Linked DNA regions of Homo sapiens. The protein of the gene in region 1 interacts with the protein of each later gene in a biochemical or structural test. Each region holds a gene or a part of one and is shown in the gene's direction. Other genes may lie near its edges.

Region 1 (4,241 bases):
TGCTTCCAGCTTTTGCCCATTCAGTATGATATTGGCTGTTGGTTTGTCATAAATAGCTCTTGTTATGTTGAGATACGTTCCATCGATACCAAGTTTATTGAAAGTTTTTAGTATGAAAGGCTGTTGAATTTTGTTGAATGCCTTTTCTGCATCTATTGAGATAATCATGTGGTTTTTGTCATTGGTTCTGTTTATGTGATGGATTACATTTATTGATTTGCATATGTTGAACCAGCCTGTCATCCCAGGGATGAAGCCGACTTGATCGTGGTGGATAAGCTTTTTGATGTGCTGCTGGTTTCGATTTGCCAGTATTTCATTGAGGATTTTCGCATCAGTGTTCATCAGGGATATTGGTCTAAATTTCTTTTTTTTTGTTGTTGTGTCTCTGCCAGATATCATTTGGTATCAGGATGATGCTAGCCTCATAAAATGAGTTAGGGAGGATTCCCCTTTTTTCTATTGATTGGAACAGTTTCAGAAGGAATGATACCAGCTCCTCTTTGTACCTCTGGTAGAATTCGGCTGTGAATTTGTCTGGTCCTGGACTTTTTTTGGTTGGTAGGCTATTAATTATTGCCTAAATTTCAGAACCTGTTATTGATCTATTCAGAGATTCGACTTCCTGGTTTAGTCTTGGGAGGGTGTATGTGTCCAGGAATTTATCCATTTCTTGTAGATTTTCTAGTTTATTTGCGTAGAGGTGTTTATAGTATTCTCTGATAGTAGTTTGTATTTCTGTGGGATCAGTGGTGATCCCCTTTATCATTTTTTATTGCATCTATTTGATTCTTCTCTCGTTTCTTCTTTATTAGTGTTGCTAATGGTCTATTTTGTTGATCTTTCAAAAAATCAGCTCCTGGATTCATTTATTTTTTTTTTTGAAGGTTTTTTTTCTGTCTCTATCTCTTTCACTTCTGCTCTGATCTTAGTTATTTCTTGTCTTCTGCGAGGTTTTGAATTTGTTTGCTCTTGCTTGTCTAGTTCTTTTAATTGTGATGTTAGGATGTTGATTTAGATCTCTCCTGCTTTCTCTTGTGGGCATTTAGTGCTCTAAGTTTCCCTCTAAACACTGCTTTAAATGTGTTCCAGAGATTCTGGTATGTTGTGTCTTTGTTCTCATTAGTTTCAAATAACTTATTTCTTTCTGTCTTAATTTCGTTATTTACCAAGTAGTCATTCAGGAGCAGGTTGTTCAGTTTCCATGCAGTTGTGTGGTTTTGAATGAGATTCTTAATGCTGAGTTCTAATTTGATTGCACTGTGGTCTGAGAGACAGTTTGTTGTGATTTCTGTTCTTTTACATTTGCTGAGGAGTGCTTTACTTCCAATTATGTGGTCAATTTTAGAATAAGTGGGATGTGGTGCTGAGAAGAATGTATATTCTGTTTATTTGGGGTGCAGAGTTCTGTAGGTGTCTATTAGGTCCGCTTGGTCCAAAGCTGAGTTCAAGTCCTGAGTATCCTTGTTAATTTTCTGTCTCCTTGATCTGTCTAATATTGACAGTGGGGTGTTAAAGTCTCCCATTATTATTGTGTGGGAGTCTCAGTCTCTTTGTAGGTCTCCAAGGACTTGCTTTATGAATCTGGGTGCTCTTGTATTGGGTGCATATATTTTAGGATAGTTAGCTCTTCTTGTTGAATTGATCACTTTACCATTATGTAATGGCCCTCTTTGTCTCTTTTGATCTTCGTTGGTTTAAAGTCTATTTTATCAGAGACCAGGATTTTTTTTTGCTTTCCATTTGCTTGGTAGATCTTTCTCCATCCCTTTATTTTGAGCCTATGTGTGTCTTTGCACGTGAGATGGGTCTCCTGAATACAGCACATTGATGGGTCTTGAGTCTTTATCCAGTTTGCCAGCCTGTGTCTTTTAATTGGGGAATTTAGCCCATTTACATTTAAGGTTAATATTGTTATATGTGAATTTGATCCTGTCATTATGATGCTAGCTGGTTATTTTGCCCATTAATTGATGCAATTTCTTCTTAGCATCGATGGTCTTTATAATTTGGCATGTTTTTGCAATGGCTGCTACCGGTTGTTGCTATCCATGTTTAGTGCTTCCTTCAGGAGCTCTTGTAAGGCAGGCCTGGTGGTGACAAAATCTCTCAGCATTTGCTTGTCCGTAAAGGATTTTATTTCTCCTTCACTTATGAAGCTTAGTTTGGCGGGATATGAAATTCTGGGTTGAAAATTCTTTTCTTTAAGAATGTTGAATATTTTCCCCCTACTCTCTTCTGGCTTGTAGAGTTTCTGCCGAGAGATCTGCTGTTAGTCTGATGGCCTTCCCTTTGTGGGTAACCCAACCTTTCTCTGGCTGCCCTTAACATTTTTTCCTTCATTTAAACCTTGGTGAATCTGACAATTATGTGTCTTGGGGTTGCTCTTCTTGAGGAGTATCTTTGTGGTGGTCTCTGTATTTCCTGAATTTGAATGTTGGCCTGCCTTGCTATGTTGGGGAAGTTCTCCTGGTGAATATCCTTAAGAGTGGTTTCTAACTTGATTCCATTCTCCCCATCACTTTCAGGTACACCATTCAAACGTAGATTTGGTCTTTTCACATAATGCCGTATTTCTTGAAGGCTTTGTTCATTTCTTTTCACTCTTTTTTTTCTAATCTTGTCTTCTCGCTTTATTTCATTAATTTGATCTTCAGTCACTGATATCCTTTCTTCTGCTTGATTGAATCAGCTACTGAAGCTTGTGTATGCTTCACCATGTTCTCATACTCTGGTTTTCAGCTTCATCAGGTCATTTAAGCTCTTCTCTACACTGTTTATTCTAGTTAGCCATTCGTCTAACCTTTTGTCAAGGTTTTTAGCTTCCTTGCAATGGGTTAGAACATACTTCTTTAACTTGGAGAAGTTTGTTATTACTGACCTTCTGAAGCCTACTTCTGTCATCTTGTCAAACTCATTCTGCATCCAGTTTTGTTCCCTTGCTGGCGAGTAGTTGTGTTTCTTTGGAGGAGAAGAGGCGTTATGGTTTTTGGAATTTTCAACCTTTCTGCTGTGGTTTCTCCCCATCTTTGTGGTTTTATCTATCTTTGGTCTTTGATGTTGGTGGCCTACGTATGGGGTTTTGGTGTGGATGTCCTTTGTGTTGATGTTGATGCTGTTCCTTTCTGTTTGTTAGTTTTCCTTCTAACAGTCAGGTACCTTAGCTGCAGGTCTATTGGAGTTTGCTAGAGGTCCACTCCAGACCCTGTTTGCCTGGGTATCACCAGAGGAGGCTGCAGAACAGCAGATATTGCTGCCTGATCCTTCCTCTGGATGCTTCGTCCCAGAGGGGCACCCACCTGTATGAGGTGTCTGTTGGCCATTACTGGGAGATATCTCCCAGTCAGGCTACACAGGGGTCAGGGAACCACTTGGATAACAGTCTGTCCCTTATCGGGAGCTGAAACGCCATGCTGGGAGAACCATTGCTGTCTTCAGAGCTGTCAGGCAGGGACGTTTAAGTCTGCAGAAGCTGTCTGCTGCCTTTTGTTCAGATATGCCCTGCCCCCAGAGGTGGAATCTAGAGAGGCAGTAGGCCTTGCTCAGCTGTGGTGGTCTCTGCCGAGTTTGAGCTTCCCTGCTGCTTTGTTTACACTGTGAGCATAGAACTGCCTACTCAAGCCTCAGCAATGGCAAACGCCCCTCCCCCCACCAAGCTCCCACATCTTAGGTTGATCTCAGACTGCTGTGCTGGCAGCGAACAAGGCTGTGTGGGCGTGGGACCCGCCGAGTCAGGCATGGGAGGGGATCTTCTGGTCTGCCTGTTGCGAAGAGCATTGGGAAAGTGCAGTATTTGGGCAGGAGTGTATCGCTCCTCCAGGTACAGCCACTCATGCCTTCCCTTGGGTAGGAAAGGGAAATCCCCCAACCCTTTGCACTTCCCAGGTGAGGCAATGCCCCACCCTGCTTCGGCTCGCCCTCCATGGGCTGCACCTGCTGTCCAACCAGTCCCAGTGAGATGAACCAGGTACCTAAGTTGGAAATGCAGAAATCACCTGTGTTCTGCAAAGATCTTCCTGGGAGTTGTAGACCAGAACTGTTCCTATTCAGCCATCTTGGAAGCGACCATGAATGCCATCTTACAAATGAAAGTGTTAATTGGTCACAGACATTCACTGGCTTTTGTGTATATTAATACTTCTGTGAATTTAAATGGATATAAATATTGGTTATAATATTCCACTAGTGCATTTGGATATTCATTTATCTAGCAATTTATATTTCACAGAGAAAAATACTCA
Region 2 (3,500 bases), on another chromosome or scaffold:
TCCCAAGTAGCTGGGATTACAGGTACACACCACCATGCCTGGCTAATTCTTGTATTTTTAGTAGACACGGGATTTCACCATGTCGTCCAGGCTGGCCTTAAACTCCTGACCTCAAGTGATCCACCTGCCTCGGCCTCCCAGAGTGCTGGGATTACAGGCATGAGCCACTGAGCCCGGCCCAATCTCGTTTTATAATACTCCCATCTCCCATTCTTTCCACTGTCCCACCTGCAAGTTTGGATTATTTTGTAACAAATCTCAATCATCATATTATTCTATAACCATTTTAATATGTGTCTCTAAAATATATTAGCTTTATTTTTAACATAGTTAAATGCTATTGTCATAAAATAATAATCATAATAATTAATTGTAATTCTATATCATCAATTATCTAGTTAATGTAAAAAATAAATCTAAGGCCAGGCGCGGTGGCTCACACCTGTAATCCCAGCACTTTGGGAGGCTGAGGTGGGCAGATCACCTGAGATCAGGAGTTCAAGACCAGCCTGACCAACATGGAGAAACCCCATCTCTACTAAAAATACAAAAAATTAGCCAGGCGTGGTGGCGCATGCTTGTAATCCCAGCTACTTGAGAGGCTGAGGCAGGAGAATCACTTGAACCCGGGAGGCGAGGTTGCGGTGAGCCGAGATCGTGCCATTGCACTCTAGCCTGGGCAAAAAGAGTGAAACTCCATCTCAAATAAATAAATAAATAAATAATAAAAAATAACTTAAATCTACTTAATTAGAAAAACTAACATTCTAAAAATTTTATTTTAAGAAATATCAAAATTGGCTGGGCACGGTGGCTCACGCCTCTAATCCCTGCACTTTGGAAGGCTGAGGTGGGCGGATCACCTGAGGTCAGGAGGGTCAGGAGTACAAGACCAGCCTGGCCAACATGGCGAAACCCTGTCTCCACTAAAAATACAAAAATTAGCCAGGCATGATGATGGGCACCTGTAATCCCAGCTACTCAGGAGGCTGAGACAGAAGAATCGCTTGAACCCAGGAGGTAGAGGTTGCAGTGAGCTGAGATCACCCCACTGCACTCCAGCCTGGGTGACAGAGTGAAACTCCGCCTCAAAAAAAAAAAAAAGAGAAAAGAAATATAGAAATTAAAGCATACATGGCCAGGCGTAGTGGCTCATGTCTGTAATCCCAGCACTTTGGGAGGCTGAGGCAGGCAGATCACTTGAGGCCATGAGTTCAAGACCAACCTGGCCAACATGGCGAAAGCCTGTCTCTACTAAAAATACAAAAAAATTAGTTGGGCATGGTGGTGCACACCTGTAATCACAGCTACTTTGGAGGCTGAGGCAGGAGAATCGTTTGAACCCAGAGGTGGAGGTTGCAGTGAGCCGAGATTGTGCCACTGCACTCTATCCTGGGTGACAGAGCGAGATACTGTCTCAAAAAGAAAAAAAAAAGGCTGGGCGCGGTAGTTCATGCCTGCAATCCCAGCACTTTGGGAGGCCGAGGCAGGCAGATTACGAAGTCAGGAGATGGAGACCATCCTGGCTAATACAGTGAAACCCCGTCTCTACTAAAAAATACACAAAAATTAGCTGGGTGTGGTGGCAGGCACCTGTAGTCCCAGCTACTCTGGAGGCTGAGGCAGGAGAATGGCATGAACCCGGGAGGTGGAGCTTGCAGTGAGCAGAGATCACACCACTGCACTCCAGTCTGGGCGACAGAGCGAGGCTCTGTCTCAAAAAAAAAAAAGAAAGCATACTCTCACCTCCTTCAGTGACTGATGTTAGTATTTTGGCACATTCTTTTTCTGTGACATATACACACTTACCTTGTAAGTGTTGTACTCATTTCCTATGACAGTAAATAGTCTTTGTAACAGGCTGCATGATATTTCATAAAATGAATGGATGTGGCATAATTTATATGTGAGCCTTTTGAATTCTGCTATTATAATTAATATTGCAATGAACAATTCTTATATTGCCTCTACACCTCAAATGTCTTATCATTTCTTCTAGTTTTTCTGAGGATGTCAGATTATTGGGTTAAAGGATATGAACATTTTTAAGGCCTTGGAACAGATTTCTAAATTGCTTTCCAGAATAATTCCCATGTGATACTTTCACCATGTTTATTTCAGACTTTTTTTTTTTTTTTTTTTTGAGACGAAATCTCACTCTGTCACCCAGGCTGGAGTGTAGTGGCATGATCTCGGCTCACTGCAACCTCCGCCTCCTGAGTTTAAGCGATTATTCTGCCTCAGCCTCCCAAGTAGCTGCGGTTACAGGCAAGTGCCTCCATGCCTGGCTAATTTTTGTGTCTTTTGTAGACATGGGGTTTCACCATGTTGCCCAGGCTGGTTTCGAACTCCTGAGCTCAGGCAATCTGCCTACCTCGGCCTCCCAAAGTTCTGGGATTACAGGCGTGCACCACCGCGCCCAGCCATCAGAGTCTTTTTTGTCAAAATAAAATGGTCTAAAGACATACATCATAGAGAAACTATAATACAAAATTTACAGGTATATCTAAGAAAAGAAAAGTATATTTAAAGCATAAAAATAAACTGCTCTTTTACTTAAAATTTTTTAAAAACTGGATTAAAAATATGAAACTTCCAACAAATTGAGCTTTTTTTTTTTTTTTTTTCTTTTTTGAGACGAGGTCTCGCTTTTGTCACCCAGTCTGGAGTGCAGTGGCGCGATCTCGGCTCACTGCAACCTCCACCTCCCTGGTTCAAGCAATTCCCCTGCCTCAGCCTCCCAAGTAGCTGGGATTACAGGCGCATGCCACCACGTCGGGCTAATTTTTTTGTATTTTTAGTAGAGAGGGGGTTTCACCATGTTGGCCAGACTGGTCTCGAACTCCTGATCTCAGGCAATCTGCCAGCCTGGGTCTCCCAACATGCTGGGATTACAGGCATGAGCCACTGCACTCGGCCTGAACTTTTTATAGTAGTAACGATAATTCAGTAATGTCCAATAATGACTAAGTAAGTTATAACAAGTACAATGTCAGCAATAACTAGTGCTTTTTAGTAAACAGGGTCAGGCAACCTTGTACCCTTTTAAAAATGTTCGAATATCGATATACCTCCTTCCTACTTGGTGGAGGATTGATTGAGGAGGAAAGTGTGCAGTGATGGTTACCAGCTTCAGCCTCTTGGCTTGACTTTGCAAATACTGGTGAGAATTTGGAAAGAGCTTGAGAATATCTTACATAGTCACATGTTGCTGAGAAGAGTTAAGAACTAACTTCTTGATGTTCATTTTTAACAATGGCTTGCATTCAAAACCTTGTAGAGCTCATTAGTAGGAGCTAAGAAGCTAATATTTGCCTTTCACTAAAATTCCTGATTACTTAGCCTAGGTAGTTCGTTGTCTCTCTAGGTTCTGTCTTTGGGAGCTTGGGTCTAAGGTTATCAAGCTAACTCTTTCTTCCCTCTCACCCTTCCCAAATTGACCCTGGTGCTGATTTGTTATTCATACGATTTTCTAGTTTTTCTTTTCCCTTTTTGAGTAT
Region 3 (4,241 bases), on another chromosome or scaffold:
CGCCAGGGAGCTGCAGCGCAGGGGCCGGTGCCACCGCTGGCCCTGGCCTAGGGCTCTACGGCGACTTCGGGTCTGCGGCAGCCGGGCTGTATGAGAGGCCCACGGCAGCGGCGGGCTTGCTGTACCCCGAGCGTGGCCACGGGCTGCACGCAGACAAGGGCGCTGGCGTCAAGGTGGAGTCGGAGCTGCTGTGCACCCGCCTGCTGCTGGGCGGCGGCTCCTACAAGTGCATCAAGTGCAGCAAGGTGAGGCTCCCGAGCTCACCACCTCGCCTGCCGTGCGCCCGCTTCCCCTACCCGCGCCTCGCCTGCGCCCCGCGGCCCCTCTCAGCGGCCTTCTCTCTGGCCCCACCCGCCTTAGGTGTTCTCCACGCCGCACGGGCTCGAGGTGCACGTGCGCAGGTCCCACAGCGGTACCAGACCCTTTGCCTGCGAGATGTGCGGCAAGACCTTCGGGCACGCGGTGAGCCTGGAGCAGCACAAAGCCGTGCACTCGCAGGTAAGCGCGGGGCGCACCGCCGCGCGCGGCCCTGCTCGGGGATCTTCTGCATCTCCTCGGTGCAGCACCAGCCACTCTCTGCCTGGAAGTTTTCTCCTCGACTTCCCCCAGTTTCCTCCCCCAAGCCCTCCGCTGCGTCCCCTTGCCCTGGTGCAGGTGTGTAGGGAAAGGAGGATTGTGGCCGGCTCAGGCCTTGAGGCAGCCCTGGATTTTGGTGTCACACCACTGTGAGCCTCGAGAGTGTGATCCTCATTGTTACTTTGGGCTTGAGGTAGGTTTGTATGCACTGATTCGTGCTGCTGATATATCAGACTTACTAGCTCTGTTTCTTTGTGCCTATTCTTTTCACCAAATGGTTGTCACTTAATTTGCATTGACCCCTCTCGACTGAAAAGGCAGGAATCTCAGCTCATTTAGAGCATCTAGTAGCATATTCACCCCGCTATTCATTCTTTCCTTCCTTCCTTTCTTTTCTTTTCTTTTTTCTTTTCTTTTCTTTCAGAGTCTGGCTCTGTTGCCCAGGCTGGAGGGCAGTTGCACAATCTCAGCTCACTGCAACCTCCCCCTGTCAGGTTAAAGTGATTCTCGTGCCTCAGCCTCCTAAGTAGCTGGGATTACAGGCGCATGCCACTACAGCACAGCTAATTTTTGTGTTCTTAGTAGAGACGGGATTTCGCCACGTTAGCCAGGCTGGTCACGAACTCCTGGCCTCAAGTGATCCACCAGCCTGGGCCTCCCAAAGTGCTGGGATTACAGGCGTGAGCCACCATGCCCCACCGCCGCTATTTATTCATTCATTCATTAATAAATATTTGTTGGCTAACTTCCAGGTGCCAAGTACTTAAGAATCTTATAACACATCAGGTCCTTGACAGCATGCCCACATGAAGATTATAGTTTAGCTGAGAGATGGAGAGTAGATGAGCAAGTAAATATGCCAATAGCTATCTCAGGAGAATGCCTACTTACGAAGGCTAAAAAGAGTATTAGCCCATCTCCCCCAGCACCCACACTGGCTGGGGGGAGGTGGCATCTCAAGTGACTGAGGTCTAAGCCTCCTGTTGAGGAGGGTGGAGAAGTGTGTGCTAATGGGTGTCAAAAAAAGCAGGGTGTGGATATGTATTTGCCATGGGGTGTGGAAGGTTGTGGGTGAAGAATGTTTTGGTAGAAAAAGTGTTGAAGGGCCAGGCACGGTGGCTCACGCCTGTAATCCCAATACTTTGAGAGGCCGAGGTGGGCGAATCACTTGAGGCCAGGTGTTTGAGACCAGCCTGACCAACATGGTGAAACCCCATCTCTACTAAAAATACAAAAATTAGTCAGGTGTGATGGCGTGTGCCTGTAGTCCCTGCTACTTGGGAGGCTGAGACACGAGAATTGCTTGAACCTGGGAGGTGGAGGGTGCAGTGAACTGAGATCGTTCCACTGCACTCAAGCCTGGGCGACAGAGGAGACTGTCTCAAAAAAAGAAAGAAAAAGTGTTCAAGGGATTTTAGGGTCAGCTGAGGGGTGAGGAGAGCAGCAGTCTAGTTGACTGCAGTAGGAGTTCTGCATCTCTCTCTCTCTCTCTCTCTCTCTCTCTCTCTCTCTGCAGGAACGGAGCTTTGACTGTAAGATCTGTGGGAAGAGCTTCAAGAGGTCATCCACACTGTCCACACACCTGCTTATCCACTCAGACACTCGGCCCTACCCCTGTCAGTACTGTGGCAAGAGGTTCCACCAGAAGTCAGACATGAAGAAACACACTTTCATCCACACTGGTGAGCTAAAAAGGCCCTTGGCTTGTAGGAAACACCCTGAGGCCAACATTACTCATCTTCTCTGATTTCTGGCCCCAGTGAGTGGTGGATGAGGCCTTTCTGATGGAGTTATTCTCTGCTCTGTGTTAAAGAAAACAAAGGGGTGGGTTCTTTGGTTCATTTACCGGCATAATTCTCCCCAGAGCCACCTTGATTTGGGGTTGTGTCTGAAAGGCCACTCAGCAGGTCAGCTCACAGGTACTCTATACTTGGAAAGAACATTTTCCTTTAGGTTAGCAGCTGCTTCCCCTGCTGCCTGCTCTGGGTGAAATATGAAGCTCCAGGGTCCTCTTAGAGAGTTGCTCTAAAGCTTACCTAGAGATTGAGGACTTTCCCTAACCACCTGGCCTTTTGTGGGAGGGACTCGTGTGGACTCTCCGGCTGCATTTTCAGGAGTCTGAGAGCTTATTCTGATTGAAGAGGAACAAATAATGGCAAATATGATTAAACTCTCTGCTAAGCATTTTTTAAATGCATTATTTCATTTTATGCTCACAACAACTCTGAGAGGTAGCGACTACTCCTTCTCCCCATTTTAGAGATGAAAAAAATGAGGCTAGGTAATCTGCCCAGGGTCACACTGCTAGCAAATGACAGGGCCAGAGCTCAAATTCAGGTCTGACCTCTCAAATGTTCACTCTTGACCACTGTTTATTGTATTTTATGTTCAGAGTCATGAGGTTGGTAGACAGAAAGCTTCTGTTCACTTATTGCCCTTTTCAAAATATCTGCAAGTTAATGCCATAATAATGATAATTCCTTACCTATTATAATGCTTTATAATTTACAAAGTACTTTCAAATCTATCATTTCATTTGATTCTTATTGCCACTCAAGAAAGTAGAAGGAGCTGCTCTTACCATCCTGAAACTCAGAAAGAGTGAATGATTTATCAGAAGTAAGACTGAATGAATAATGTAGCCATGTAATGCTCTGGCTTTTAATCCTGGACTGTTTGTCTAACACTTTATGTGCGGGTGGGAGTTTTAATGCCAAGAACACTCTAATAGTCAAAAGACATTTACATGAGACCCAGAATTTCTGAAAATTTTATTGCAGAATATGAATACTGATTTAGAACAAATCACAGTGTATTCTAAACACCCACCCTTGATGTTTATAAATATACTTGGGTAATGTATATATTTCCATTGAAAACCCAGAAAAGTATTCTACTTTAATCATTCCCTCTTACCTGAAATTTCCATGTAATTCACTCCTTATAAGTAAGGTATTCAGGACACTTATCAAAATGCAACTAGGATCTTGACTGAATAAAACATTAAGCCCTTATCAAACATTTACGTTATACCTAGAATTTGTTTTCTCAGATTTGTTTGACCCTAAAGGGATAGAATACATTTTGATGGGTGGTTTCTTATCAAGGAAATCTGAAGCATGAAAACAGAAAAGAGTTTTTAGCAAGGAGGACAGAGGGTTCCTCAAAAACAAACTTCATCTATTTTATACTTTTTCCAAGGCTGAGCCCTGACTATAATGCCATGCTGGGCTATTGGAAATTCATGCCATTTACCCAACAACACATGAGATGGGGAACAAGACAAAACCTTCTTGTGTTCTCTTATTTATTAATTTGTGGTGAAGAATTGCTGGTATATAAAGAATCATGTGATTAACCCCATAAAATTAAGGAAAAATCAAGACAGTAAAGTATCAGCTGCCTTAATCCTTTGTGGCCCAAATGTGGATTTTTAAAATAAGATATTGAAAAACGTATCCTGCACATGTACCCCGGAACTTAGAAAGAAAGAGAGAGAGAGAGAGAAATAAAGAAAGAAAGAAAGTCCATGTTAAGATGTTTTTTCAGATATAATCTGCTGTCCTTCAAGAACAAGAAAGAAGACGGGCTCACTGATCCATACAAACTAACACCCACTTGGAAATTCAGATTTGAAAACTTCCTCTGAATTAGAACGGAGTCAC
Region 4 (4,241 bases), on another chromosome or scaffold:
GGGTTTTGCCATGTTACCCAGGCTGGCCAGATTTCCCTTTTTATAAGGACATCATTGGATAAGGGTCTACCTTCCTTCCTATCTTAACTTACCTAGTTACATCTGCAATGGACCCAGTTTCCAAAGTATGGGGGTTAGGAGTTCAACATGAATTTTGGGGACACAGTTCAATCTATAACAATCACCATCTTCCTTCCATCAATTCTTGGGGTGTTCAGCTTGCTTATGATTAAAAGCTAACTGAGCTGTTTCTGAAAGCAGCTGGTCTATATGGAGGATCATTTGCATAGGACTTGGTGTGTGCTCCTGAGAAAATCTGGGGTTTTGCTGGCTTGATGTGCAACCCTGAGGAAGCTTGGCTCAAACCATCTTTTTCCAGTCAGTATTTCCCCTCCATTAGTAGGTTACAGAGAAATCATCTTTGCCAAGTCTCTTGTATCATTCTCCTTCTTTCCATGACCCCTACTTCTCAACCCACACAGTGGGAAATGAGCATGCAGGGCCCAAGCCCTGACTTGAGGCAGGCTGGTCTAGGGGTCTTGTGTGCTGGCCCTGGAGTCAGACCAGCTGGGGAAGATCCCAGTGCCACACTGGCTGTGTGATCTGGGGCACACTTCTTAAGTGCTCTGAGCCTTGGTTCCCTTATCCGTAAAATGGAATAGTAAGAGCACCTTAGGGAAGTGGTGGTGAGGATTGAATGAGATAGTGCAAGTTGAGCAGGGTTGATACACTATTAATAATTCAGGTGGGGCTTGTACCGCTTCTTCCCCAATTTACTCCCGTCCATTGTGTTGTCAGGTGCAGGTTTCCAAAGCACACCTTGGTTCGTCTCTCTGCGTTTTGTGGGATGCCTCCTCTAGCTCGCCATTGCCTACTTATTCAGTATTTTGTCATTCAGGGCTGCCCTTGTGGCTTATGTGACCCAGCCCCCAGCTGCTCTTGCTGGGCCTCTCCATGTAGCCTTCTTTCCAGGAGAAAACTTTCTTCATCCCTTTGCCCAACAACCCTATGATCTCCTGCCCTTTAGTCTGTTCTTACCTTTGCCCGGAATGCCTTCCTTTCATTCCTCTCAAGTCTTTTATGGTTAAATTCTCAAACTCAGCTCAACCATCACCTCATCCATAAAACATTTCCTGTTCTTCCCTTTGAGCCCTATTGCACTCTGTAACATTTCTTCTATAGGACTTGGCATCCTCTCCTTTGAACTGCAGTGGCTGGAATGTGGAGACTGGGTCTTGGCTTTCACCTGAAATAGCACCCAGGGACAGGGTTAGGAGCAGAGGTCAGTTCAGCCAGTGTCTGTCTGTTGAGCACTTATCATTCATGACATTGTGTTTGCAGAACTTCAAAGATACCATGGGTGTGAAGGTGTCTTGGGTCCTTCAAGGCCCGAGTCTCAACTAGAAAGTAGGTCAGATCTGAAATCCTGATGGGCCATCTGACTATTTAATGCCAACTGTCTGAGTGGATGAGGGCAGTGGAAAGCAGACTTTCAGGCTAGCATTATAATTAATCAAGTGGTGAAACTTGGGATTGCCTAAAGTTATATAGCAAGTTAGTGACCTTGCTAGGAATAGAACAGGTCACTGTTCTTAAGCACTGAGTAAACCATACCTTCTGCTCACTATAAAACTTCAAAGGTAAAAACAAAAGTCTGTCTCGTTCATGGCAGCCTTGTGATAGGAAGAGTTTATTCTTAAAATCTTGTTGCTTTTTTTTTTTTTTTTTTTTGAGAGATAGGGTCTTGCTGTGTCACCCAGGCTGGAGTGCAGTGGTGCAGTCATATCTTACTGCAGCCTCAACCTTCTGGGCACAAGCCATCCTCCTGCCTTAGTCTCCCAAGTGGCTGGGATCACAAGCATGCACCACTGCACCTGGCTAATTTTTTAAAAATTTGTTTGCAGAGACAAGGTCTTGCCATGCTGCTTAGGCTGCTCTCAAACTCCTGGGCTCAAGCTATCCTCCTGCCTCTCCTCCTAAAGTGCTGGGATTACAGGTGTGAGCCACCGCACCCGGCTGGATCTATGTTAATATTCAAATACAATTCCAGGCAGCTGAAGCCTGCCTAGGCTGAGGTACATCCCTGAGTTGTTTTTGGTGGAGTTGCAGGTGGTGGTTGGCAGAATGTGGGCAAGTCACAGAGGCAAGACGTGATCTTTTGAAATTGGGGAGAACTGGGTTCCTGTCTTTATCTGTCAGAGTTCTCCAGAAAAACAGAATGAGTAGAATATGAATAAATAAATACACATATACACACAGATTTATTTCAAGGAATTGGATGATATAATTGGGAAGGCTGGCAAATTCAAACTCTCTAGGGCACCCAGAAACTCTGGAAGCTCCGCAGGAGCTGCAATGCTACAGGCTTCAGGGAGAATTTCTTCTTTATCAAGGAAACCTCAGTTTTGCTCTTAAAGCTCTCCAATTAATTGGATGAGACCCACCCAGATTATTGAAGATAATCTCCTTTACTTAAAGTCAGCTGGTTGATTGTAGATGCTAACCACATGTACAGAATACCTTCAGAGCAACACACAGGTTAGCACTTAATAGAATGACTTAAGAACAATAGCCTAGCTCCTTGACATTTAAAACTGACCATCACGCCATCCAGCTCCACCTCTTCCTGGGAAACCATGATTTCCAAATTGGTAAATGGAGAAAATTAACATCTTTCTTGAAGAGTTCTTGTGAGGATTAAATGACACTGTATGTTTAAGGGCTGGTACAGTTCCTGGCATAGTAATAGATCGTCAACAGATGATTCGCTTTTATTGCTTCTGAGCTCCAGGTCAAACCTCCAGGACACCCCTTGTCTTCTAGAGGAAATTACCAAAGACTGGAATCCACTTTAGCATGAAAGGAACCCTTCCCTCCCCAAGGGGGAGGTCATACTGGAAATGGTTGAATGAATTGGGGCAGTTCCATGTTGAGAAGATCAGACTGAGGAAGGATCATGATCACCAACTTCAAATATTTGAAGAGCTGTTATGTGAAAGAGGCCTTGGACTTGTTGAGGAGGCAGAACTCTAAATGCCAACTGAAGTTCTGCTAAAGCTCAACCGCAGGAAGAACTTAATTTCTTAGCTTCTCTCTCTTTTTTTTTTTTTTTTTTTTTTTTTTTTTGGGTCTTACCTTTCTTTAGAGTTTCTCCAAGGGTCTAAGGGAAATCCAGTGACAAAATGAGAGCCTCCTGGGGCACTAGTTAAAATGCAGATTGCCAGGCCCACCCATCTACCACCAGGCTGAATGAATACCTCTGGAGTTTTCCAGACCCCCAGGTGGTTCTTGTGCCATCCCAAGCTTAAGGTCCTCTGCCTTGACGCTCCTCCCCCAGGGCTCCTCAGTGTCCGGCAATACCTGAATGGAAGGAGTGTCTGGCTGAAAGCCCTTCTATGAATTTAAGGCTCAGAGCAGTTAAAAAACTGGGCCAAAGTGACTTACCAGGTACTTAAAAGTCAAAGCCCAATTTCCCTAGCTCCTTTTATTATTTTCTAATATATTCTAAAGAACATCTCTCTGGATGGGGGTGGAGGTAGGTTGGGGAATGGGGATCTAGCATGCAAAAACAATGAATGCAGAATTAGCTTGCACATAAGTGCAGTTTAAAATTCATGCTTAATGCCAGGCGCAGTGGCTCTTGCCTGTAATCCCAGCACTTTGGGAGGCCAAGACAGGAAGATCACTTGAGGTCAGGAGTTTGAGACCAGCCTGGCCAACATGGCAAAACCCCGTCTCTACTAAAAATACAAAAATTAGCTGGGCATGTTGGCACACACATGTAATCCCAGCTACTTGGGAGGCTGAGGCACGAGAATCGCTTGAACCCGGGAGGTGGAGGTTGCAGTGAGCTGAGATCACGCCACTGCACTCCAGCCTGGGTGACAGAGCTGGACTCCATCTCAAAAAAAAAAAAAAAAATTCATTCTTCAGTTCTAGAACAGGCAAAGCTGAGCTAAAAATATTAGCGAGGAGAACTTTCTGAAAAGTTCTATATCGTGGTTGGGGTGTCAGTTTACATGGGTGCCTCCATTTGTCAAAGTGTGCACCTAAGGTTTCTGCATTTCTGCGTGTATAAATCCTGCCTAAAAACTATTAAAGAAGAATTGAGTGGGGAGGGGTGAAGGTATTGATGATAAGAGTGCTGATCATTGTTGAAACTGGGTAATAGTTACATGGAAAGTGCACTGTATAATCATACAGTGATTCTGTATTCTGTTTACGTATGTTTGAAATTTTCC
Region 5 (4,241 bases), on another chromosome or scaffold:
AGGTGGGAGTCTGGGTTGTCTGGACTGTGAGGCCAAATAATTATACATGTAGACAAGGCCTCAGTAACTACCCAGGTCTAAAAGCATTTCTGACTTTTAGAGTGGGGAATGAGAGGCTCCGGGAGAAAAAAATGTCTTGTCCATGGTCATACTGCAAAGCAGGTTTAGAAAGCGAGTACTCCGAGATCCAGTCCAGAACCAAAAATCATGATTATCTATTAGGGATGTGTGATTAGGTGTTTGTGTGAGAGAGAAAGAGAGATGCAGGCAGACATGTGTACACCTTTGTACACACGTACACACGCACGCATGGCTGGTGGTGGACTTGTCCCAGAGACACTGCCTGGACCTGGAGTCTCGTAGGCGCCCTCTTTGGCCCACATGAGACAGCCGATCTTGTCACTTTATTACCACGCTTCATTTTGGACCCCGAATTGCGCCCAGGAAGTCCCGCAGATGTGTGGCAGTTTTTGTTCCTGGAAAAGGTGTTCATGCTGAAGATCTTCCCCAGTTCCAAGACAGGGCTTTTGGTGGCATGGGGTTATTCCCCGGACTTCAGTCTCCTCCACCACAGACTCAAGGAACCCACAGGGGGTTTTCCAGGAAAGTCTCAGGTCCCAGGAACCTCACGGGAACACAGGTGCCACTGCTTAAGGTCATGGCTTTGAAGAGGAAGGGCCACCGTGTGCCTGGACAAGTTCTAGTGTGTGAGGAATGTCAGCCCTGTGACTCTGCTGTCACACCTTGGCCATGTGACAAGGCTGTGTGAGTGTGTGTGTGTGAGACAGAGAGAGAGACTGTGGGCAGCCAGGGAGCTCAGGAACCCGTGGGAGGTTTTTTTCTTTTCTTTTTTCTTTTTTTTTCTTTTTGAGACGGAGTCTCGCTCCGTCGCCCAGGCTGGAGTGCAGTGGCGCAATCTCGGCTCACTGCAGCCTCCGCCTCCTGGGTTCACACCATTCTCCTGCCTCAGCCTCCTGAGTAGCTGGGACTACAGGCACCCGCCACCACGCCCAGCTAATTTTTTTGTATTTTACTAGAGACGGGGTTTCACTGTGTTAGCCAGGATGGTCTTGATCTCCTGACCTCGTTATCCACCCACCTCGGCCTCCCAAAGTGCTGGGATTACAGGCGTGAGCCACTGCGCCCGGCCGAGTTTTTTTTTTTTTGAGGCAGAGTCTCACTCTGTCGCCAGGCTGGAGTGCAGTGGCGCAATCTCGGCTCACTGCTACCTCCACCTCTCGGGTTCAAGCGATTCTCCTGCCTCAGCCTCCTGAGTAGCTGGGATTACGGCACCTACCACCACGCCCAGCTAATATTTTGTATTTTAGTAGAGATGGGATTTCACCACGTTGGCCAGGATGGTCTCAATCTCCTGACCTCATGATCCGCCCGCCTCCGCCTCCCAAAATGCTGGGTTTACAGGCGTGAGCCACCGCGCGCGGCCCTGGCTGGGAGGTTTTAACAGGATAGGAGGGGAATCAACTTTCCCTGAGGGCCGGCTCTGGTGCGAGGTGTTTTACAAATGTGTACTCATTCGTATCTTCCCAATAACTGTGATCCCCATTTTACAGGCAACTCAACTGAGGTTAGAGAGGCCACATATGTGCCTGAGGTCACACAGCAAGTAAATGGCAGAGCCAGGATTAGACGCTCGGTCTGTGTGACTGCACAGGAATCAGGATGGAATTGCTGAGAACACGAGCTTTGCTTCAGCCCTGAGTCCTGGCTGTGACCCGGATGCTTTTGACCTTGGGCATGCTATGTAGCCGCTCGAAGCCTCAGTGTCCTCATCTATAAAATGCAGGCCTAGAGTAACCATGCAGGTGGCGAGGGTTAAACGAGATGGTTAGGCCCCATATGGCCTGGCAGTATTATTTAATGTTACTATAACCTTTTCCTGCCCTGCCCAACCCTGAGCTCACCCCATACTGCCTGGCTGTCCCCCACAGACCATTACTGGGACTTCCACCCCCACCACGTGCACAGCGAGTTCGAGAGCTTCGCCGAGAACAACTTCACGGAGCTCCAGAGCGTGCAGCCCCCGCAGCTGCAGCAGCTCTACCGCCACATGGAGCTGGAGCAGATGCACGTCCTCGATACCCCCATGGTGCCACCCCATCCCAGTCTTGGCCACCAGGTGCATGCCACCGCCTGCCCCGTCCCCCAGGAGACTGCCAGGCCTGTGGTGGGGCCCGGGAGCTTCACAGGAAGCTGACACAGGCTCTTACCCAACTCAGCTTCCTGCCCCACAGTGCCAACGGCGGCTGGAGCTCCAACGGCTGCCGCCTGACCCCCCAAGTGACCTCATGACCCCACACCCCTTATCTCATCTCACCCCGAGTATGGACAGACCCCAGATAATTCTCGCACCCTCACCAAGCCTCCCCATCCCAACGCCTTGTTGTGGGCCCTCCTGGGCCTCACTGTCTGCCACCCCCATTCACTAGCCCTCATGGATCCCACACCAAGTCACTGAACACCTCTACTGACCCTGCCTCTCCCCAGTGACCCTCCCTACTGACCCTAACCCGGATCAGTGACCTCTGCTGACCTCTACCACCCCTACTGACCTCCAGGGTCCCTCCACTCACTCATCATCCCACCTATGAAACCCCCTTCCAGACCCAACGCACCGGTCCCTAGCATGCCCTCTTCTGACCCCAGCCTAATGCGGGTCCACACAGCACCGCTGCAGGGAGGAGAACAAGGCACCACTTCCCCGGTGCCCACAGTCCTAAACCAGGAGGCCCAGCTGGGAGGGCTGGGTGGGCTGGATGTCAGCACCCCTCGCCCCACAGCCTGCACCCTATGTGCAGCACCTCAACTGGCCCCCCTTTTCCCTGGTCTTCTTCCTCCAGTCTCCTGTGCCTGCCATTGTCCCCTGCCCTCTGCACTCCTTCTCTCCCCAGCTGACCTCCCTCCCAGCCCCCCTGAGCTGTAAGCTGGCCCTTCCTGACTCTGATCTCCTTCCCCCACCGTCCAGGTCTCCTACCTGCCCCGGATGTGCCTCCAGTACCCATCCCTGTCCCCAGCCCAGCCCAGCTCAGATGAGGAGGAGGGCGAGCGGCAGAGCCCCCCACTGGAGGTGTCTGACGGCGAGGCGGATGGCCTGGAGCCCGGGCCTGGGCTCCTGCCTGGGGAGACAGGTGGGGCACCTGGCCCTCCACCCTGGCCCCGACCCTGGCCGTGTCTGTGCCCTGCCCCCACCCAGCCAGGCCAACTGACCCAGCAGCCACGCCACCGAGTCGCGTGTGTGTGTGTGTGCATGTTTGCCAGTGTGTGTGTTTTGTGGGGCTGTCTGTGGCTGTCTCTGTGTGTGTGTATCTGCTGTGTAGTGCATACGGGCATCTCCATGAAGTGTGCCAGGTGTGTGTGTCTCTCTGTGCCATGAGTGTGTGTACATCTGGGTGTGTGTGAGCAAGTGTGCAGAGGGTGCGTGTGCACAGGTACGGGCAGGTGCATGTGTGCGAGTGGCTGTGTGAGTGGGTGTGTGAGAAGGTGAATGTGAGAGCTGGTGTGGCTGAGAGTGGGTGTGGCCATGTTTGTGTGTCTGTCAACACATGAATGTATTTCAGTGCGTGTGAGCAGCTGTGCACGTATGATGTCAGTGGGTGTCAGCAGTGTGTGGGTGTGCCTGTGTGAGCAGGGATGTGAGCATGGTATATGTGAGTGGCTGTAAGCAGGCATGTGTGAGTGATATGTGTGAGTGGGGGTGTGACAGCAGGTGTGTGAGCAAGTGTATATGTGTGAATGTGTATGTAAGCAGGGATGTGTGTGATATAAGTGTGTGTGAATGGGCATAGGTGTGTGTCAGTGGATGTGTGAGTGGGTGTGAACATGTTTGAGGGTGTATGTAAGCAGGTGTGTGTGAGCAGGAAGGTGTGAGCTGGGGTGTGTGAGCATGTATGTGTATATGTGAGCAGGTCTGTGCATGTATGTGAGTGGATATGTGTTTTAACATGTGTAAGCATGTGTGTGTTCCCATGTGTGAGCAGGTGTGTGTGGGGGGTGAGGACGTGCTTAAGCACCTGCGTGTGTGAGCAGGTGTGCATGTGTGTGAACAGGTATGTGTATGTGTGAAAGCAGGTGTGTGAATGAGTGTGTGAGCATGAATGGGTGTGAGTGGGCCGGGCGTGGTGGCTCACGCCTGTATCCCAGCACTTTGGGAGGCTGAGGCAGGCGGATCACCTGAGGTCAGGTGTTCGAGACCAGCCTGGCCAACATGGCGAAACCCCGTCTCC
Region 6 (4,241 bases), on another chromosome or scaffold:
TCTCTTTCTTAGACAGAGTTTCGCTGTTGTTTTGCCCAGGCTGGAGTGCAATGGTGTGATCTTGGCATACCGCAACCCCCACCTCCCAGGTTCAAGTGATTCTCCTGCCTCAGCTTCCCGAGTAGCTGAGATTACAGGCATGTGCCACCATGCCTGGCTAATTTTGAATTTTTAGTAGAGACGGGGTTTCTCCCTGTTGGTCAGGCTGGTCTCAAACTCCCGACCTCAGGTGATCTGCCCGCCTTGGCCTCCCAAAGTGCTGGGATTACAGGCCTGAGCCACCGTGCCTGGCTCTTTTGTTTTTCTTTTTTTCTTTTTTTTTTTTTTTTGAGATGGAGTCTTGCTCTGTTGCCTAGGGTGGAGTGCGGTGGCGTGATCTCGGCTCACTGCAGCCTCCGTCTTACGGGTTCAGAATCTCCTTCCTCAGACTCCCGAGTAGCTGGGACTACAGATGCCCGCCACCACGCCCAGCTACTTTTTGTATTTTTAGAAGAAATGGGGTTTCATCATGTTGGCCAGGCGGATCTCGAACTCCTGACCTCAAGTGATTCGCCCTCCTCGGCCTCCCAAAGTGCTGGGATTACAGGCAGGAGCCACTGCACCTGGCACTGGCTGGGATTTTTATGCTATGTTACTGCGTTTGAGCCTCAGCAGCCCCGGGAGGAAGAAGCAGTAACTCATCTTGGAGAAGGGAAGGACACCTAAGGCCCAAAGAGGGTCACTGGTTTCCCTGGGGCCACACACTAATCTAAAAAGAGTGAGCACTTCCTAATTCCTACTACCCCTCCCTGTCCACCCCAGCAGGTCCTGCCAAACCCCGACTCTGACGACTTCCTCAGCTCCATCCTGGGCTCTGGAGACTCACTGCCCAGCTCCCCACTCTGGTCCCCCGAAGGCAGTGATAGTGGCATCTCCGAAGACCTCCCCTCCGACCCCCAGGACACCCCTCCACGCAGCGGACCAGCCACCTCCCCCGCCGGCTGCCATCCTGCCCAGCCTGGCAAGGGGCCCTGCCTCTCCTATCATCCTGGCAACTCTTGCTCCACCACAACCCCAGGGCCAGTGATCCAAGTACCTGAAGCCTCTGTGACCATAGACCTGGGTGAGTCCTGCTGTGTCTCTGCCCACCGCCCTCACCTTGTTCCAGGGCCCTTCCTGTAAGTGAGGAAATGGAGGCCCAGAGAGGGCTGGCATCTTGTCCAAGGTCACACAGCAATTTGGAGCTGGGCCCAGACTCAAACTCAGGACACGTGTCTCCCTTGGCTAGGTGTTTCCATGCTTTCACGTGGATGCTATTGGGAGCCCATTTTCCAGATCGTGAAACAGTCCTGTCAGGTTGAGCAATGAGCTAAAACCACAGAGCTAGGATGCAACCCCGGCAGGTGGCTCAGGCACCAGGCATGGTGCTGACAAGCACAGCCCAAAGTCAGGGTCTTGCCTTCTACGTGTCTGTACCCCGTGCCTGGTTCCTAGTAGATTTTTTTTTATTTTTTATTTATTTTTATTTTTTGAGACAGAGTTTCACTCTGTCACCCAGGCTGGAGTAAAGTGGCGCGATCTCGGCTCACTGCAACCTCTGCCTTCCAGGTTCAAGCAATTCACCTGCCTCAGCCTCCTGAGTAGCTGGGATCACAAGCATATGCCACCATGCCCAGCTAATATTTATTTTTTAGTAGAGACGAGGTTTCACCATGTTGGCCAGGCTGGTCTTGAACTCCTGAGCTCAGGTGATCTGCCCACCTCAGCCTCCCAAAGTGCTGAGATTACAGGTGTGAGCCGCTCCACCCAGCCTGTAGATGCTCAATAAAAGTGCATGAGGTTACCAGGTCCTAGGTTCCAGGGTGCTCCTCCTAGACGTGGGGAACAGCAGATCAGTAATGATTTACTCTATTGATTAAGCATTCCCGGCGGGCCAGGCAGAGCCCTGGCTGGAGATACTTGGCCTCTGGGTGGCCTTTGTCCCTTGACCCTTGCTATGAGCTCTTCTTGGTCCCATTGGAGAGTTGACAAAACTGAGGCTCAGGCCCGGAGCGGTGACTCATGCCTGTAATCCCAGCACTTTGGGAGGCTGAGGCAGGCGGATCACTTGAGGTTAGGACTTCAAGACCAGCCTGGCCAACATGGTGAAACCCCATCTCTACTAAAAATACAAAATTAGCCGGGCATGGTGGGGGCCACCTGTAGTCCCAGCTACTCAGGAGCCTGAGGCAGGAGAATCACCTGAACCCGGGAGGCGGAGGTTGCAGTGAGCTGAGATCATGCCACTGCACTCCATCCTGGCTGACAGAGCCAGACTCTGTCTCGAAAAAAAGCCAAAAACAAAAAATGCTGGGCACAGTGGTTCACGCCTGTAATCCCAGCACTTTGGGAGGCCGAAGCGAGCGGATCACGAGGTCAAGAGATCGAGACCATCCTGGCCAACATGGTGAAACCTCTGTCTCTACTAAAAATACAAAAATTAGCTGGGTGTGGTGGCAGGCGCCTGTAGTCTCAGCTACTCGGGAGGCTAAGGCAGGAGAATCTCTTGAACCTGGGAGGTGGAGGTTGCGGTGAGCCAAGATTGCCACACTGCTCTCCAGCCTGGCGACAGAGCGAGACTCCGTCTCAAAAAAAAAAAAAAAAAAAAATCTGAGGCTCAGAGAGGTGAAGTCACTTACTCAAGGTCACACAGCCCTGCCCAACCAGGATTAGAACCAAGGGTTACCTGACCCAAAGTTTGTGTGCTGGGACAGCATGCCTACTGCATGCCGGCTACCAGGAGGGGACAACCAGAGGTGAATCAGACCTCGTCCCTGCCCCTTGGGTGAGATAACGCCTGGCTGGCTGCAAATCTAGCCTGTAATTCTGTGTGATAACAGCCACTCCCTTTTGAATCAGCCGGTGTCTCCTGACAATGTCCTGTGTCTTCCTCAGCCTTGTGGGACGGACAGAACCAAGCCCTGTTGAATTTGGGTCCCCATCTTTTTTTTTTTTTTGAGATGGAGTCTCGCTGTGTCACCCAGGCTGGAGGGCAGTGCCACATTCTCAGCTCACTGTAACGTCCACCACCCGGGTTCAAGTGATTCTCCTGCCTCAGCCTCCCGAGCAGCTGGGATTACAGGTGCACGCCACCAGGCCCGGCTAATTTTTGTATTTTTAATAGAGATGGGATTTCACCATGTTGGCCAGGCTGGTCTTGAACTCCTAACCTCAGATGATCCGCCTGCCTTGGCCTCCCAAAGTGCTGGGAATACAGGCGTGAGCCACCATGACTGGCTGGGTTCCCATCTTATAGCAGAGGGGAGACCGAGTCACTAGTGAGGGCTGCCCCCTTCAACTCAGGCCTTGGGGACTCCAAACTCTGGCAGAAGTCATATGAATGTTGGGATTAATCATGGGAGACTTGGTGGAGGAGGCGGTTAGAGGCTGGAAGCTCAGGACTCCCCCCGTCTGACACTCTCCCTGTCTCCGTCCCCACCTGCCCTGGTCAGAAATGTGGAGCCCAGGAGGAAGGATCTGTGCTGAGAAGCCGGCTGATCCGGTGGACCTGTCCCCACGATGCAATCTCACCGTGAAAGACCTCCTCCTTTCGGGCAGCAGTGGGGACCTGGTGAGCACCCCCACACCCTCCCATGGGGCGTTGGAGCTGGGAGGGCTGCTCGGGTTCGAGGAGCCTAAATATCCCCGTTTCAGAGACTGGAAAACTGAGTCACAGAAAGGCGTGGAATTTGCCCACAGTTAGAGACCATTCCAGTCCTGGGCTCACTGTCGCCTGGGCTGGGGTGTCTTCCTCTGTAGTACTTAGTAGTAACAATAGCAACAACAACTAAAAGCTAAAACTGGCTGAGTGTGGTGGTTCACACCTGTAATCCCAGCACTTTGGGAGGCCAAGGCAGGCAGATCGCTTGAGCTCAGGAGTTTGAGACCAGCCTGGGCAACATGGTGAAACCCCATCTATACAAAAAATACAAAAATTAGCCTGGCATGGTGGCACATGCCTGTGGTCCCAGCTACTCGGGAGGCTGAGGTGGAAGGATCGCTTGAGCCCAGGAGGTCAAGGCTGCAGTGAGCTGTGATTGTACCACTGCACTCCAGCCTGGCCAACAGACCAGGACTGTCTCAACAATAACAACAACAAAAAGAACAAAGCTAAAACTGAGGCTGCACCTGCTATATGCCAGGCGCTCTTTATTTATCATCTTAAAAAAGTTTTTTTTGAGACAGGATCTCACTCTATCGCCCAGGCTGGAGTGCAGTGGCGC
Region 7 (4,241 bases), on another chromosome or scaffold:
CATGGTGGTGCATGCCTGTAGTTGCAGCTACTCAAGAGGCTGAGGCAGGAGAATTGCTTGAACCTGGGAGGTGGAGGTTGCAGTGAGCCAAGATTGCGCCACTGCACTCCAGCTTGGGTGACAGAGCGAGACTCCATCTCAAAAACAAAAACAAAACCAAAAACAAACAATAAAAAACCAATACTAGATTTATTGTATTGGAAAAGTACAGTCTGGCCTAACTAAAATGTTTAAATGAATTTGCTTAAGTAAGATTAACAGCAGGGTGTAGAATAGCCAAGCAAAATAGAAAATCAAAACAAAGGCAGAGCAATTTTATAAATCAGGATATCTGTGACTGAATCATAGGCCTAGGAATAAACAGACACTTGTGAAGAAAATTACAGGATACACAGGAATACGACTAGGAATAATAGGTGAAATTAGGAAAGGTCAGGGTTTTTTCCCCTAACAATTAGACCATTAGGTTATTTAGGAAATAGTTTCCAAAGGAAAATTTAATTGCTGAAGACTGAGTTACATGGACGTAGATCTTATAAGGTATATTAAAGGAAGCAATTTTATGTTACAGGAGGATGTACTTAATGTCTCCCCTCCCTCATTTTATCATACATATTTATTTTGTTTTTTGAGTCTCGCTCTTGCCCACGCTGGAATGCAGTGGTGCCATTTTGGCACAATCTTGGCTCACTGCAACCTCCGCCTCCCGGGTTCAAGCGATTCTGCTGCCTCAGCCTCCTGAGTAGCTGGGAGTACAGGCGCACGCCACCATACCTGGCTAATTTTTGTATTTTTAGTAGAGATGGGGTTTCACCGTGTTGATCACGCTGGTCTTGAACTCCTGACCTCGTGATCTGCCCACCTAGGCCTCCCAAAGTGTTGGGATTACAGGCGGGAGCCACTGCGCTCGCCCATATTATACATATTTCTAATTAAGAAAACAGACTCTAGTTAGCATCCATGTTTCTGTCATTTTGACTCCTTGGCATTCTGGTCATGTGAAAATAGCCTCTTCTCTTGGCTCACTGTGGTTATGAATTGTTGGTTTATTTTTAGAACTGGTTTTTAAGTTTTCCCCTGAGTATTATTTTTAAGCCTTTTATTTTGGAAAATTTTAAGCATATACAAGAGTAGAGAGAATAGTATGATGAACAACCATGTTCCCATCACACAGTCTTAACAGTTGTCAACTCATGGCCAATCTGATTTCAACTCTCTCCCCATTTATTCTCCTCTATCAGGTAATTTAATTGCTGTATCTTCACTATATATTTCAAAATATGAAGCCTTTAAAAAAAAACCTGAAAAAACCTTAATAACAAAATTGCCCAGATTTTCCTGTTGTCTCATAAATGCTTATTTCTGATTGACAATTTTGATAATTTTACTTAATAAAGCTGATTGGGTTCTAACATGTTAAAAAATTTGACATTTGTAGAATAACCTTAGAATTTGGATTGTAACCTTAGAAGAAGGGGCCACTGGGGAATTATTTAGTTCCTTAAAGCTCAGTGCTGTAACTTTTTTTTTTTTTTTTTTTTTTTGAGATGGAGTTTCGCTCTTGTTGCCCAGGCTCGAGTGCAGTGGCGTGATCTCTGCTCACTGCAACTTCCGCCTCCCGGGTTCAAGTGATTCTCCTGCCTCAGCTTCCCAAGTGGCTGAGATTATAGGTGTGAGCCACCACGCCTGGCTAATTTTGTATTTTTAGTGGAGACGGGGTTTGACCATGTTGGTCAGGCTGGTCTCGAACTCCCGACCTCAGGTGTTCACCTGCCTTAGCCTCCCAGGGTGTTGGGATTACAGGCGTGAGCCACTGTGCCAGGCCTCAGTGCTATAACTTCTTAACCTCCGGTATGACAGCATTTTTTGTCAGCAGTCACTTGTAATTGTTAGATAAGGATGATAAGACAGGATTCTTGAAATTCAGTGATTTTTCCATGGGGTCACTTTGAGAAATAAGATTGTCATGTGAAAAGTTTGCAGCATTTTCATGAACTAATAGACAGGTGAGGTATTAGTCAATTGAACTTGGCTATAAGAAATTATTCTCTGAGATCATATTTCTTATTACTTTCTTGAGACAATCAGTGTAGTGGTAACAAAACCCCTTCCAAATTAGAAATACGATAAATTCTTAGATAACCATGCTTTGTAACATTGTCATTTTGTCAGGATATTAAAGAAGGTATTAATATTTAATGTTATTTTACTTGTAAATACACAATTTATGTTACTTGCACAGCTAAAGTACTGTTATTTGTTCAATTTCTGACAGTATCACTTAATAAAATGTCTTTGACTCTTTCATCTTTATTGAGTTATACTTTACATTCAGTAAAATTAACCCATTTTAGGTGTACAGTTTGATGAATTTCGGCAAATGTGTACAGTTGTGTAATCACCACCACAATCCAGGTACAGGACATTTTCATCACCCCAAAAAGTTACCTGGTTTCCCTTTGTATTTTCAGTCACTTCCCCCTAGGCTAGGTCCTGGCTACCTAGCAACCATTGTTCTGCTTTCTCTCACTGTAATGCTTTTCCTTTTTGAATTTCATAGAAATGGAATCATGTGTCTGTTTTCTTTTGCTTAGAACAGTGCTTTTGCAACAGATCTGTGTTGCAGCATGTAGTAGTTTCTTCTTTTATATTAAAAGTAGTATTTTCATTGCTTGACCTGGGAAGGTGGAGGTTGCAGTGAATCAAGATTGTGTCATTGAATTCCAGCCTGGGCAACAGAGTGAGACTCTGTCTCAAAACAAACAAAAAAAGTAGTACTTATTTCATGACTGTACCACAGTTTTTAAATCTGCTTTCTAGCTGATATAAATTTGGGTAGTTTACTCTTTCTAGCTATTCTCTAGTCTTTATTTTTTTCTTGTTTATTTATTATTTTAATTTTTTTTGAGACAGGCTCTTGCGCTATTGCCCAGGCTGGAGTGTAGTGATGTGAACATGGCTCACTGCAGCCTTGACCTTCTGGGCTCAAGCGATCCTCCTGCCTCAGCCTCCTGAGTATCTGGGACTACAGGCTTGCATTACCACATCTGGCTAATTTTTAATTTTTTGTAGAGATGGAGTCTCTCTGTGTTGCCCAGGCTGGTCTCGAACTCCTGGGCTCAAGCAATTATCCCGTCTCAGCCTCTCCAAGGTGCTGGGATTACAGGCATGAACCACTGTGCCTCGCCTTATTTATTTCTTTAAAATTAGAGACATGGTCTTGCTGTGTTGCCTAGGCTGGTCTCAGACTCCTGGCCTCAAGCTGTCTTCCCACCTTGGCCTCCCAAAATGCTGGGATTACAGGCAGGAGACACCATGGCTGGCCTGAAGTTTTTCTTGGCTTCAATTTATCACAATGTTTTTCATAGGAAAAGTCCACTGATAATAAAAACCTAGATTTTTCTTGACAGCAAATTTTTGTGTTAATTAAAAAACATACTAGTATATGTAAAAAGATTATATTTTAGAATTCCATTAAATGTAATGGTTGTATTCTAGATTGCTAGTTATAAAGATGATGATAGTGGCTAGTCGACAAAGCACTGTGATGAATGGATCAGTAGATAAGTTTTTATTTTCTTCCCCATGAGTTCAGGCTCCATTTCTGTGATATAGAAGTGTCGAGAACCTGCCGTTTCAAGAAATTGGCTCTGCTCCAGCATGAATCTGCTGTTCAGAATTCAGGCGATGAGGTATTCCAGGTCTTTACTTGAATTCAGATACCAGGTCTACCTCACAGACAACCTGGAACTCCAGAGATGGCCTTAACTGTGTCTCCAAGACTCTTACTTAGGGACATGGTGGAAATTCATTTGGGTGTTTTCCGTGACAGCCTCCTTGTTATGAAGTGAGAAGTGGAGGAAGATGGTTTTTTAAGCCTTAAGAAAAGCTAAATTTGAGATTAGGAAGTTAATTTGATGGAGAAAGCTAAGAAAGCCCAGACAATATGGTAGGGTTATTTTAATTTCTAAATGATGAAAACAGAGTTTTATATGGAAGGCTTTGGGGAGAGGGGTATTAGATTGTTCAGCTGATTATCTGTTCTCTTATGTTGTAGTAGTGGCTTTGTTTCTTGTCCAGAAGTAATTCGAACTTGTCCAATTATTGCTCTGTAACATCATCTGCCTCTACAAACCCTGCTTTAAGTCTTTTAAGGAAGCATCAGCAATCAAACGATTTTTATGAAATTGTGGGTGAGTGTAGTTTATAAACATTCATTCTCTTTCTCTTTTTTTTGAGAC

What was found.
Region 2: the proteins of GSK3B (region 1) and ATXN3 form a complex in vitro, tested with the Homo sapiens proteins (one study listed by BioGRID).
Region 3: of the proteins of GSK3B (region 1) and GFI1, one has a biochemical effect on the other in vitro, tested with the Homo sapiens proteins (one study listed by BioGRID).
Region 4: of the proteins of GSK3B (region 1) and NFE2L3, one has a biochemical effect on the other in vitro, tested with the Homo sapiens proteins (one study listed by BioGRID).
Region 5: of the proteins of GSK3B (region 1) and SPI1, one has a biochemical effect on the other in vitro, tested with the Homo sapiens proteins (one study listed by BioGRID).
Region 6: of the proteins of GSK3B (region 1) and CREB3L3, one has a biochemical effect on the other in vitro, tested with the Homo sapiens proteins (one study listed by BioGRID).
Region 7: the proteins of GSK3B (region 1) and UBR5 form a complex in vitro, tested with the Homo sapiens proteins (one study listed by BioGRID).

What each region holds. Positions count from the first base shown.
Region 1 is NC_000003.12:120,003,597-120,007,837, reverse strand, and holds part of GSK3B (glycogen synthase kinase-3 beta), read left to right. Parts: intron 1-4,241. UniProt on the Homo sapiens protein: Constitutively active protein kinase that acts as a negative regulator in the hormonal control of glucose homeostasis, Wnt signaling and regulation of transcription factors and microtubules, by phosphorylating and inactivating glycogen synthase (GYS1 or GYS2), EIF2B, CTNNB1/beta-catenin, APC, AXIN1, DPYSL2/CRMP2, JUN, NFATC1/NFATC, MAPT/TAU and MACF1.
Region 2 is NC_000014.9:92,075,583-92,079,082, reverse strand, and holds part of ATXN3 (ataxin-3 reference isoform), read left to right. Parts: intron 1-3,500. UniProt on the Homo sapiens protein: Deubiquitinating enzyme involved in protein homeostasis maintenance, transcription, cytoskeleton regulation, myogenesis and degradation of misfolded chaperone substrates.
Region 3 is NC_000001.11:92,476,605-92,480,845, reverse strand, and holds part of GFI1 (zinc finger protein Gfi-1), read left to right. Parts: coding exon 1-245; intron 246-360; coding exon 361-498; intron 499-2,092; coding exon 2,093-2,258; intron 2,259-4,241. UniProt on the Homo sapiens protein: Transcription repressor essential for hematopoiesis. Functions in a cell-context and development-specific manner. Binds to 5'-TAAATCAC[AT]GCA-3' in the promoter region of a large number of genes.
Region 4 is NC_000007.14:26,158,239-26,162,479, forward strand, and holds part of NFE2L3 (nuclear factor erythroid 2-related factor 3), read left to right. Parts: intron 1-4,241. UniProt on the Homo sapiens protein: Activates erythroid-specific, globin gene expression.
Region 5 is NC_000011.10:47,357,749-47,361,989, reverse strand, and holds part of SPI1 (transcription factor PU.1), read left to right. Parts: intron 1-1,949; coding exon 1,950-2,137; intron 2,138-2,983; coding exon 2,984-3,146; intron 3,147-4,241. UniProt on the Homo sapiens protein: Pioneer transcription factor, which controls hematopoietic cell fate by decompacting stem cell heterochromatin and allowing other transcription factors to enter otherwise inaccessible genomic sites.
Region 6 is NC_000019.10:4,156,194-4,160,434, forward strand, and holds part of CREB3L3 (cyclic AMP-responsive element-binding protein 3-like protein 3), read left to right. Parts: intron 1-801; coding exon 802-1,102; intron 1,103-3,470; coding exon 3,471-3,589; intron 3,590-4,241. UniProt on the Homo sapiens protein: Transcription factor that may act during endoplasmic reticulum stress by activating unfolded protein response target genes. Activated in response to cAMP stimulation. In vitro, binds to the cAMP response element (CRE) and box-B element.
Region 7 is NC_000008.11:102,402,211-102,406,451, reverse strand, and holds part of UBR5 (E3 ubiquitin-protein ligase UBR5), read left to right. Parts: intron 1-4,241. UniProt on the Homo sapiens protein: E3 ubiquitin-protein ligase involved in different protein quality control pathways in the cytoplasm and nucleus. Mainly acts as a ubiquitin chain elongator that extends pre-ubiquitinated substrates.